Regions from separate parts of the Homo sapiens genome. Here region 1 is linked to region 2. Evidence: fine-mapped expression QTL. A gene starts in region 2. The other region holds a variant in brackets. All regions are shown on one strand. Distances are between the middles of the regions. Region 1 overlaps ZAN (zonadhesin). Region 2 holds the start of TRIP6 (thyroid hormone receptor interactor 6).

The links. PIP is the estimated chance that this variant, and not a neighbour inherited with it, causes the effect.
Region 1: its variant is fine-mapped to the expression of TRIP6 in whole blood (INTERVAL, PIP 0.96).

Annotation. Positions count from the first base shown.
Region 1 is chr7:100,747,875-100,753,245 of GRCh38, forward strand. It overlaps ZAN (zonadhesin), which reads left to right. Exons shown (of 48, transcript NM_003386.3): 10 at 263-341; 11 at 450-596; 12 at 2,751-3,022; 13 at 3,308-3,392; 14 at 3,838-5,355. Among named protein-coding and RNA genes, the nearest start is that of ZAN, 17 kb to the left of the region's middle. The variant G/A (reference allele first, on the strand shown) is at 2,632.
Region 2 is chr7:100,865,163-100,870,533 of GRCh38, forward strand. It overlaps TRIP6 (thyroid hormone receptor interactor 6), which reads left to right and starts at 2,225. Exons shown (of 9, transcript NM_003302.3): 1 at 2,225-2,444; 2 at 2,699-2,826; 3 at 2,946-3,071; 4 at 3,333-3,704; 5 at 5,208-5,301. The coding sequence starts at 2,336. It overlaps SLC12A9 (solute carrier family 12 member 9), which reads left to right. Exons shown (of 14, transcript NM_020246.4): 14 at 557-1,848. The coding sequence ends at 1,443. It overlaps MIR6875 (microRNA 6875), which reads left to right and starts at 2,874; the gene lies at 2,874-2,945. RefSeq lists silencers at 1,873-1,962, 2,323-2,472 and an enhancer at 2,913-3,012.

The DNA.
Region 1 (5,371 bases), 120 kb before region 2:
CCAGCTACTAGGGAGCCTGAGGTGGGAGGATCACTTGAGCCCTGGAGGTCAAGGCTGCAGTGAGCTATGATCACACCACTGTACTCCAGCCTGGGCAATAGAGCAAGACTCTGAAAAAAAAAAAAAAAGAAAGAAAGAACTGAATTGAGGGTCTGGGCACAGGGAGTAGGGATTCTGGGTCCTGGAATGGAGTCGAGTTAGATCAGGGGCTTGGGGGTGTGGGCTGTGTGCTCACTCCTGCTCCATCTCCCTTTCTCTCCAGTTTGCCGTGGTAGGCGTTTTTGGAAAGACCCCAGAGCCAGCTGTGGCAGTTGATGCAACCAGCATTGCTCCTTGTGGGGGTGAGAGCAGGCCCTGAGAGGCCCGGATCTCTCAGAATCCGGGGTGGGCTGGGGGAGGGCTGGAGAGCGTCACTCAACTTGCTCAAATATCCTATTTTGATCCCCCAGAGGGTTTTCCTCAGTGTGACTTTGAAGACAACGCCCATCCCTTCTGTGACTGGGTCCAGACTTCCGGGGATGGTGGACACTGGGCCCTCGGACATAAAAATGGACCCGTCCATGGCATGGGCCCTGCGGGAGGTTTCCCTAATGCAGGTGAGGAGATTGAGGAGCGCTCACGCCAAGAAATCACTCAGTCTGCTCCCAGGTAGCAGGCTGGCTGCTGTGACTGATGGGAGACGTTGTTTCAGGCAGTGGGAAGATCAGTCCACAGGTGTTTTTTCGGAAGTTTCCATGGTACTGGAATTGTGGAGATAGCAGAGTAACTTAAAGATTCTCAGGGCTGGGGGGTCACTGAAATCCTGAGAAAACCCAGGCATCTCACTTCATGGAGCCCAAAGCTTCAAAACCCACCACCTCATTTTCAGTCTAGACGTTTATGAGTGGCTCATGCCTGCAATTCCAGCACTTTGAGAGGCCGAGACGGGAAGATTGCTTGAGCCCAGGAGTCTGAGCTCAGCCTGGGCAACATAGTGAGAACCCCATCTCTAGAAAAAAAAATTTTTTTTTAATTAGCTAGATGTGGTGGTGTGTGCTTGTGGTCCCACCTACTTGCGAGGCTGATGTGGGAGGATCGCTTCAGCTCAGAAGTCAAGGCTGCAGTGAGCTATGATTGAACCAGTGCACTCCAGCCTGGGCAACAGAGCAAGACCTTGTCTCTAAAAATTAAAAATAAAAAAATAGGCCAGGCATGGTGGCTCACGCCTTTAATTCCAGCACTTTGGGAGGCCGAGGCAGGTGGATCACTTGAGGTCAGGAGTTCGAGACCAGCTGGGCAACATAGTGAAACCCTGACTCCACTAAAAAAAATGTAAAAATTAGCCGGGAGTGGTGGCGTGCACCTGTAGTCCCAGCTACTCAGGAGGCTGAGGCAGGAGAACTGCCTGACCCCAGGAGGTGGAGACTGCAGTGAGCTGAGATCGCACCACTGCACTCCATCCGGGGCAACAGAGTAAGATTCTGTCTTAAAAATATATAAAAAGAGGCTGGGCGCAGTGGCTCACACCTGTAATCCCAGCACTTTGGGAGGCCAAGGAGGGCGGATCACAAGGTCAGGAGATCGAGACCATCCTGGCTAACACGGTGAAACCCCGTCCCTACTAAAAACACAAAAAATTAGCCAGGCATGGTGGTGGGCGCCTGTAGTCCCAGCTACTCGGGAGGCTGAGGCAGGAGAATGGCGTGAGCCCGGGAGGCAGAGCTTGCAGTGAGCCGAGATCACGCCATTGTACTCCAGCCTGGGTGACAGAGTGAGACTCCGTCTCAAAAAAAAAAAAATATATATATATATATATATATATACACACACACACATATATATACACACATATATATATACACACACACACATATATATATATAAAGAAATAATTTTTTAAAAAGACAATAATGAGGGTGGGGTGCAGTGGCTCACACCTGTAATCCCAATGCTTTGGGAGGCTGAGACGGGTGGATCACTTGAGGCCGAAAGTTCAAGACTAGCCTGGCCAACATGGTGAAACCCCACCTCTACTAAAAACACAAAAATTAGCCAGACATGGTGGTACACACCTGTAATCCCAGCTACTTGGGAGGCTGAGGCAGGACAATCGCTTGAACCTGGGAGGTGGAGGTTGTAGTGAGCTGAGATCGTGTCACTGCACTCCAGCCTGGGCAACAGAGCGAGACTCCATCTCAAAAAAACAACACACACACACACACACACACACACACACACACACACACGACATTAATGAATGTAATCTAGGTTGCTGGTTTGTTATTCCCTTTTTTTCTTTTTTGAGATGGAGTCTTGCTCTGTTGCCAGGCTGGAGTGCAGTGACGTGATCTTGGCTCACTGCAACCTCCACCTCCGGAGTTCAAGCAATTCTCCTGCCTCAGACTCCCGAGTAGCTGGGACTCCAGGCACGGGCCACCACGCCCAGCTAATTTTTGTATTTTTAGTGGAGACGGGGTTTCACCATGTTGGCCAGGATGGCCTTGATCTCTTGACCTCGTGATCCGCCAGCCTCGGCCTCCCAAAGTGCTGGGATTACAGGCATGAGCCACCGTGCCTGGCCGCTTTTCCCTTTCTTTGTGATCCCACCTTCTTTAGTTAGATGTCTAAAATGAGCAGAAAAAATAATGCTAC[G/A]ACCTGGGAAATTTGAGTGTTTGCTCAGATTCCCGTTCAGAAAGCAAAGCTTTGCTAAAGCAGCAGTTGGCATGTCCTGTGCAGGCTTCTTACCTTGCCTGTTCCCTTCCTTTGCCTAGGGGGTCACTATATCTACCTTGAGGCTGACGAGTTCTCCCAGGCAGGCCAGTCAGTCAGACTGGTGAGCCGGCCCTTCTGCGCCCCAGGTGACATCTGCGTGGAGTTCGCATACCACATGTATGGCCTTGGGGAGGGTACTATGCTCGAACTCCTCCTGGGAAGTCCTGCGGGGAGTCCCCCGATTCCTCTCTGGAAACGCGTGGGGTCTCAGCGCCCTTACTGGCAGAACACCTCCGTCACCGTCCCCTCAGGACACCAACAGCCCATGCAGGTGAGAGACGGAGGCGGGGGTCCTGTCTGTGTGAGGTGAGAGGGCCAATGCCTGGGATCTGGGGGCGCCACCAGTGCTGAAGAGGTGGAAAGCTGGAAAGAGAGCCGAGAAAAGGGGAACTTCGTGTTACAGAAAGTGAGAAAGGGGCCGGGATGGGGCTGGACTGTTGAGGCTGGAACAAGGCGACATTTTGGCAGAGAACAGATTCTATGCCCAGTGGAATCACAGAGTTGCTGGAGATTCATTTTTGTTTCTCTCTCCGTCTCTCTCCCTTGTCGCCTTTAGCTTATTTTCAAGGGCATCCAGGGAAGCAACACGGCCTCTGTGGTTGCTATGGGTTTCATCTTGATCAATCCTGGGACTTGTCCAGGTAAGACCAAAGCCCAGGCTCCAGGAAGGGGGCGGTGCCCTGAGGTTCCCTGGAGTTCTCTCTATGAACTGCTTAAAATGTGAGTCCTCCCTGGAGCCCGAATTCTCACCCAGCTGGCTTTGTTTTCCATCTTCAACACACCTCTCCTTCCCCTGCACTTCAAGATGTTTGCCTGGGTGAATGTGGCTTCGATACCATGGATTTTGGGGGCTGGATCCAGAACTCCTTCCTCTGCAGTCTTGAAGGCTGGACCCATATCCTATTCATTTCTGGCATAATATCTGACATATATTAGTGTTCGTTGAGTGGATGAAGGTTGGGGTTTGGGAGTAGAAAGAGAGGTGTGAATAAGCCACCCATGGGAGCCCACTCCAGTTAGATGGCAGTAAAGAGGGTGGTGGTATGGTTTTGACTAAACTCCAGGGATTCTTATTTTTCTTTGCAGTAAAAGTGCTACCAGAGCTTCCTCCCGTATCTCCAGTTTCTTCCACTGGCCCTTCTGAAACCACTGGCCTCACAGAAAACCCTACAATCTCCACCAAGAAACCTACAGTTTCCATAGAAAAACCCAGTGTCACCACAGAAAAGCCCACAGTCCCCAAAGAAAAGCCCACCATTCCCACAGAAAAACCCACCATCTCCACAGAAAAACCCACCATTCCTTCAGAAAAACCCAACATGCCCTCAGAAAAACCCACCATTCCCTCAGAAAAACCCACCATCCTCACAGAAAAACCCACCATTCCCTCAGAAAAACCCACCATTCCCTCAGAAAAACCCACCATTTCCACAGAAAAACCCACCGTCCCCACAGAAGAGCCCACCACCCCCACTGAGGAGACCACCACCTCCATGGAAGAGCCTGTCATCCCTACAGAAAAACCCAGCATCCCTACAGAAAAACCCAGCATCCCCACGGAAAAACCCACCATCTCCATGGAAGAGACTATCATCTCCACAGAAAAACCCACCATCTCCCCAGAAAAACCCACCATCCCCACAGAAAAACCCACCATCCCCACAGAAAAATCCACCATCTCCCCAGAAAAACCCACCACCCCCACAGAAAAACCCACCATCCCCACAGAAAAACCCACCATCTCCCCAGAAAAACCCACCACCCCCACAGAAAAACCCACCATCTCCCCAGAAAAACTCACCATCCCCACAGAAAAACCCACCATCCCCACAGAAAAACCCACCATTCCCACAGAAAAACCCACCATCTCCACAGAAGAGCCCACCACCCCCACTGAGGAGACCACCATCTCCACAGAAAAACCCAGCATCCCCATGGAAAAACCCACTCTCCCCACTGAAGAAACCACCACCTCTGTTGAAGAGACTACCATCTCTACAGAAAAACTCACCATCCCCATGGAAAAACCCACCATCTCCACAGAAAAACCCACCATCCCCACAGAAAAACCCACCATCTCCCCAGAAAAACTCACCATCCCCACGGAAAAACTCACCATCCCCACGGAAAAACCCACCATCCCCATTGAAGAGACTACCATCTCCACAGAAAAACTCACCATCCCCACAGAAAAACCCACCATCTCCCCAGAAAAACCCACCATCTCCACGGAAAAACCCACCATCCCCACGGAAAAACCCACCATCCCCACTGAAGAGACTACCATCTCCACAGAAAAACTCACCATCCCCACAGAAAAACCCACCATCTCCCCAGAAAAACTCACCATCCCCACAGAAAAACCCACCATCTCCACGGAAAAACCCACCATCCCCACGGAAAAACTTACCATCCCCACGGAAAAACCCACCATCCCCACAGAAAAACCCACCATTCCCACAGAGAAGCTCACAGCCCTGAGGCCACCCCATCCCAGCCCCACAGCCACTGGGCTGGCAGCCTTGGTGATGTCTCCACATGCTCCAAGTACCCCTATGACCAGTGTGATTCTGGGCACTACCACAACCTCCAGATCCAGTACAGGTATGAGGTGGATGGA
Region 2 (5,371 bases):
GGCCAGGCTGGTCTCAAACTCCTGATCTCAGGTGATCAACGTGCCTCAGCTTCCCAAGATGCTGCGATTACAGGTGTGAGCCACGGTGCCCTGCCTGGTCCATTTTTTCATCTTCCCATTGCAGAGTCTGGGACGCTATTACCCTGGGGATTCAGGTCATGAGCTTGGCTGATCAGGGTGTCTGGTTTGCACAACAGAGTCAAACTCGCATCCCCTGCCGTGAAACAGATGCCCCGCTAGAAGCCGGGAGTGGACAGCATCCTCCTCTCCATAGAATTGGAGTGCTCATTAGTGGCAAGAATCCTAAGGCGAACTTTGCCTGTTTAAGTGGAGGAGATTAGTCACTGAGATAATAAAATAAATGCATGTGAAAGTGTTTAGGAAAAATGAAAAGTCTTTATGCAAATATGCAGAATGTTGCCGTAAGAGCCCGTACACAGTGGGAATGTCATACCTATGGCTGACGCACCTTGCTGTCAGTGTGTGGGAGCGTGGTGTAAACTTAGCCTGTGAGCCTGACTCCTGTCTGTTCCTGCCTTCCCCGCTCTGCCCCCAGGTGGCATGAAGCCCAACACGTTGGTCCTAGGTTTCTACGATGACGCTCCACCGCAGGACCATTTCCTGACGGACCCGGCTTTCTCTGAGCCTGCAGACAGCACCAGGGAGGGCAGTTCCCCAGCTCTGAGCACCCTGTTCCCTCCTCCCCGGGCTCCTGGGAGCCCCCGGGCCCTCAATCCCCAGGACTATGTGGCCACGGTGGCCGACGCCCTCAAGATGAACAAGAATGTGGTGCTGGCCCGGGCCAGCGGGGCCTTGCCCCCTGAGCGGCTGAGCCGGGGGTCTGGGGGCACCTCTCAGCTGCACCATGTGGACGTGTGGCCCCTCAACCTGCTGCGGCCCCGGGGTGGGCCCGGCTATGTGGATGTCTGCGGCCTCTTCCTGCTGCAGATGGCAACCATCTTGGGCATGGTGCCCGCTTGGCATAGCGCCCGGCTCCGGATCTTCCTGTGCCTGGGGCCTCGGGAGGCGCCTGGGGCGGCCGAGGGGCGGCTGCGGGCACTGCTGAGCCAACTGAGGATCCGGGCTGAGGTGCAGGAGGTGGTGTGGGGCGAGGGGGCCGGGGCTGGGGAACCCGAGGCGGAGGAGGAAGGGGACTTTGTGAACAGTGGGCGGGGAGACGCAGAGGCAGAGGCCCTGGCACGCAGCGCCAACGCCCTGGTTCGGGCCCAGCAGGGGCGCGGCACAGGAGGAGGGCCGGGTGGGCCGGAGGGTGGGGATGCTGAGGGCCCCATCACAGCCCTCACCTTCCTGTACTTGCCTCGGCCGCCAGCCGATCCCGCCCGATACCCCCGCTACCTGGCGCTACTGGAGACTCTAACCCGAGACCTGGGCCCCACGCTGCTGGTTCATGGGGTCACTCCAGTCACCTGCACTGATCTGTGATGCCCCTGCCTCCAGGGCTAGGTAGAGAGGGCCCAGGCAGGCGGCCTATCCTGATCCTTGGAGGAGGAGGAAGAGGAGGCCACTGTGGCCCGTGGCCCTGCCCTTGGGACGTGGAGCCCAGGGGAGGTTTGAAGGGGATCCTGGGCTTGGGCATCACGCCCACCTCCTTTGGCAGAGGGACCCCAGCACACTAACTCTGGGTGGCTGTCCCCACCGTGCAGGGGAGGGAGTCCGCAGCCTCCCTTCACTGGTGCCTTGATGCTAGGGGCCAGGCCTCCTCTGTGACTCTGGGCTACCTCAGTTTCCCCATTTTGGCCAGACTCACCGGCCCACTGGGGTGGTGATGTTTTCGTTCTGTTTTATTTTTCTAACTCTGCTGACCATGAATAAAAGACCAAAACACTACAGGCTGGCTGAGCAGTGCTGGTGGGTAGCTGAGAGGGAGGGGGTGGGAATGGAGAGCTCTGCAGAGGGGTGGAGATCGGAGCCTTCAGCCTCCCGCCGCGAGGCTGCCACGTGCAGGGCTGGGGTGCGGGGCCCGGACGCATCCGTGGACTTGGAGGCTGGCTCGGGCCCGCACCTCCCATCCCCAGCTGCCCGCAACCCCCAGTGACTCGGGATCCCCCGGAGAGCCCTCCCCTCTCGGCAGGAGGGGGCTGACTCAGGGAGAAATGGCAGTTTAGGGCCTAGGGGGCCACGTGACCCTCCCCCAGGAATGTGGTGACGTCATCGGAGGCGTGGTCGTCCCCAAAATTAGGGAGGAAGAGGAAAAAAAAAAGCCAGAAAAAGTTTTCTTTTCTGGAGTCCCAAACGAGGTGCGGGACGGAAGAGGGGGTGAAGGCCAGAGGCTCGGGGCTTCAAGACCGCTGTCTGGAGTCCCCCTTTCCAGGCCATGTCGGGGCCCACCTGGCTGCCCCCGAAGCAGCCGGAGCCCGCCAGAGCCCCTCAGGGGAGGGCGATCCCCCGCGGCACCCCGGGGCCACCACCGGCCCACGGAGCAGGTAAGGCAGCCCTTGTGAGACAGAAGAGCCACCCAGCTGTGGCGCTCACCTCTGTCCTACCGCTCCAGCCTCCCGCCCTGGCTGCTTCCTCCTGCCCCTTCCCCAAGCCGAGGCGGGGGGAACAGCCGCCTGCGCTCTCTTGGGACCCTAGATTTGGGGGAGGAGGTAACGAGAGGCGGAGAGGGTGGCTCCTCAAATATACACCCCTCCTGTCCTCCGCCACCCCACCTTTGATTTCTCTTCCCTCAACCCAGCACTCCAGCCCCACCCCAGGGTCAATTTTTGCCCCCTTCCATCTGAGCAGTGTTACCAGGCCCCAGGGGGACCGGAGGATCGGGGGCCGGCGTGGGTGGGGTCCCATGGAGTACTCCAGCACACGCAGGTGAGACCCGGGATCGTGGGGTGGGACATGTGGGATCCCCCAGAACCGAGTCTGAGGGACCCAGGACAGGAGAAGGCCTATGGTGATTTGCATTCTTCCTGCCCTGGCTCCATCCTCAGGGGCTCCCTGCAGACAGGGGGGGCCTTCGCCCTGGAAGCCTGGACGCCGAGATAGACTTGCTGAGCAGCACGCTGGCCGAGCTGAATGGGGGTCGGGGTCATGCGTCACGGCGACCAGACCGACAGGTGACTCTGCCCCTCCTCCCCGTCAGCACCCTGCCCCCTTCTCTGGACTCTCAGACCCAGCCTGATCGATCCCCCATGTGTGTAATGTGCACCCCAGCATGGAGGAAGCGTGGCTGCAAGTACCAACATGTCAGCCACTTGAGGACGGGACCTTGTCAAATGCAAAAAGCCTGTGCTTCCCCACAGCCAGGGTCATTTCCACAAATGTGGGTCTTGGAGTGGGGTCCTTGCTTACGACTTCTGGCCTGCGTTTCTCCTCAGGCATATGAGCCCCCGCCACCTCCTGCCTACCGCACGGGCTCCCTGAAGCCAAATCCAGCCTCGCCGCTCCCAGCGTCTCCCTATGGGGGCCCCACTCCAGCCTCTTACACTACCGCCAGCACCCCGGCTGGCCCAGCCTTCCCCGTGCAAGTGAAGGTGGCACAGCCAGTGAGGGGCTGCGGCCCACCCAGGCGGGGAGCCTCTCAGGCCTCTGGGCCCCTCCCGGGCCCCCACTTTCCTCTCCCAGGCCGAGGTGAAGTCTGGGGGCCTGGCTATAGGAGCCAGAGAGAGCCAGGGCCAGGGGCCAAAGAGGAAGCTGCTGGGGTCTCTGGCCCTGCAGGAAGAGGAAGAGGAGGCGAGCACGGGCCCCAGGTGAGCCCTGGGGAACTGGGATTTCAGGCCCTACAGACAATGGGACACCGACTGGGTGGGGTGGCTGGTGGTGTTTTAGGGGGCTTTTTTGTTTTTTGAGACAGAGTTTTGCTCTTGTTTGCCCAGGCTGGGGTGCAGTGGTGCCATCTTGGCTCACTGCAACCTCTGCCTCCCGGGTTCAAGTGATTCTCCTGCCTCAGCCTCCTGAATAACTGGATTACAGGCACACGCTGCCACGCTTGGTTAATTTTTGTATTTTTAGTACAGACGGGGTTTCACTAAAACCCCAGTTTGTTGGCCAGGCTGGTCTCGAACTCCCGACCTCAGGTGATCCGCCTGCCTCAGCCTCCCAAAGTGCTGGGATTGCAGGCCTGAGCCACCGCGCCTGGCCAAGGGGCTGGTTTTGGAGCAGAGTCAGAGGTCTGGGACGTGGAATAGGTAAGGGCAGGGCAGTGCGGGGGAGCAGGATAGAACTGCCCATTGGGGCTGAGCGCGGTGGCTCATGCCTGTAATCCCAGCACTTTGGGAGGCTGAGGTGGGTGGATCACCTGAGGTCACGAGTTCGAGACCACACTGACCAACATGGAGAAACCTCGTCTCTACTAAAAATACAAAATTAGCCAGGCATGGTGGCACATGCCTGTAATCCCAGCTACTCGGGAGGTTGAGGCAGGAGAATCACTTGAACCTGGGAGGTGGAGGTTGCGGTGAGCCGAGATCGCACCACTGCTCTCCAACCTGGGCAACAAGAGCAAAACTCTGTCTCAAAAAAAAAAAAAAAAAAAAAAAAGAACTGCCTACGGGCCCCTGGGCTGAGATGTTCTCAGATGAGCTTTCTAGCTGGAACTGCCTGGCCACCTTCAGAGACATTATAGCAGTCCCCAATCTTTTTGGCACCAGGGACCAGTTTTGGGGAAAACAATTTTTCCATGGACTGGGGAGGGGGATGGGAGGGGGTGGGAGGGGGATGGTTTCAGGATGATTCAAGCACATTACATTCATTGTGCACTTTATTTCTGTTATAATAATAATAGAATATATAGTATATATAATTGTTTCGGTATATATTACAATGTATATTACAATGTAATATATACCGAAACAATTATACAATTCACCATCATGTAGGATCAGTGGGAGCCCTGAGCTTGTTTTCCTGCAACTGGACAGTCCCATCTGGGGGTGATGGGAGACAGTGACAGATCATCAGGCATTAGATTCTCATAAGGAGCTTGCAACCTACATCCTTCGAACACACAGTTCACAATAGGGTTCATGCTCCTATGAGAATCTAACGCCGCTGCTGATCTGACAGGAGGTGGAGCTCAGGCGGTAATGCAAGTGATGGGGAGCAGCTGTAAATACAGATGAAGCTTTGCTTGCCCATTGCTCAGCTCCTGCTGTGTGGCCCAGTTCCTAACAGGCCATGGCCTGGCGGCTGAGGGCCCTGGTATTACAGCATCAGGAGCTAGAGTAGGACCGAGCCCGATTCCCACCTTCCAGGTGCCCCTGAGCCAGCCTCCAGAGGATGAGCTGGATAGGCTGACGAAGAAGCTGGTTCACGACATGAACCACCCGCCCAGCGGGGAGTACTTTGGTGAGCTGAGGCTGTGGGGTGGGTGGGACGTGGGAAGGGAGGCTGGGAGACAGAGGGGACAGTGGCTTCC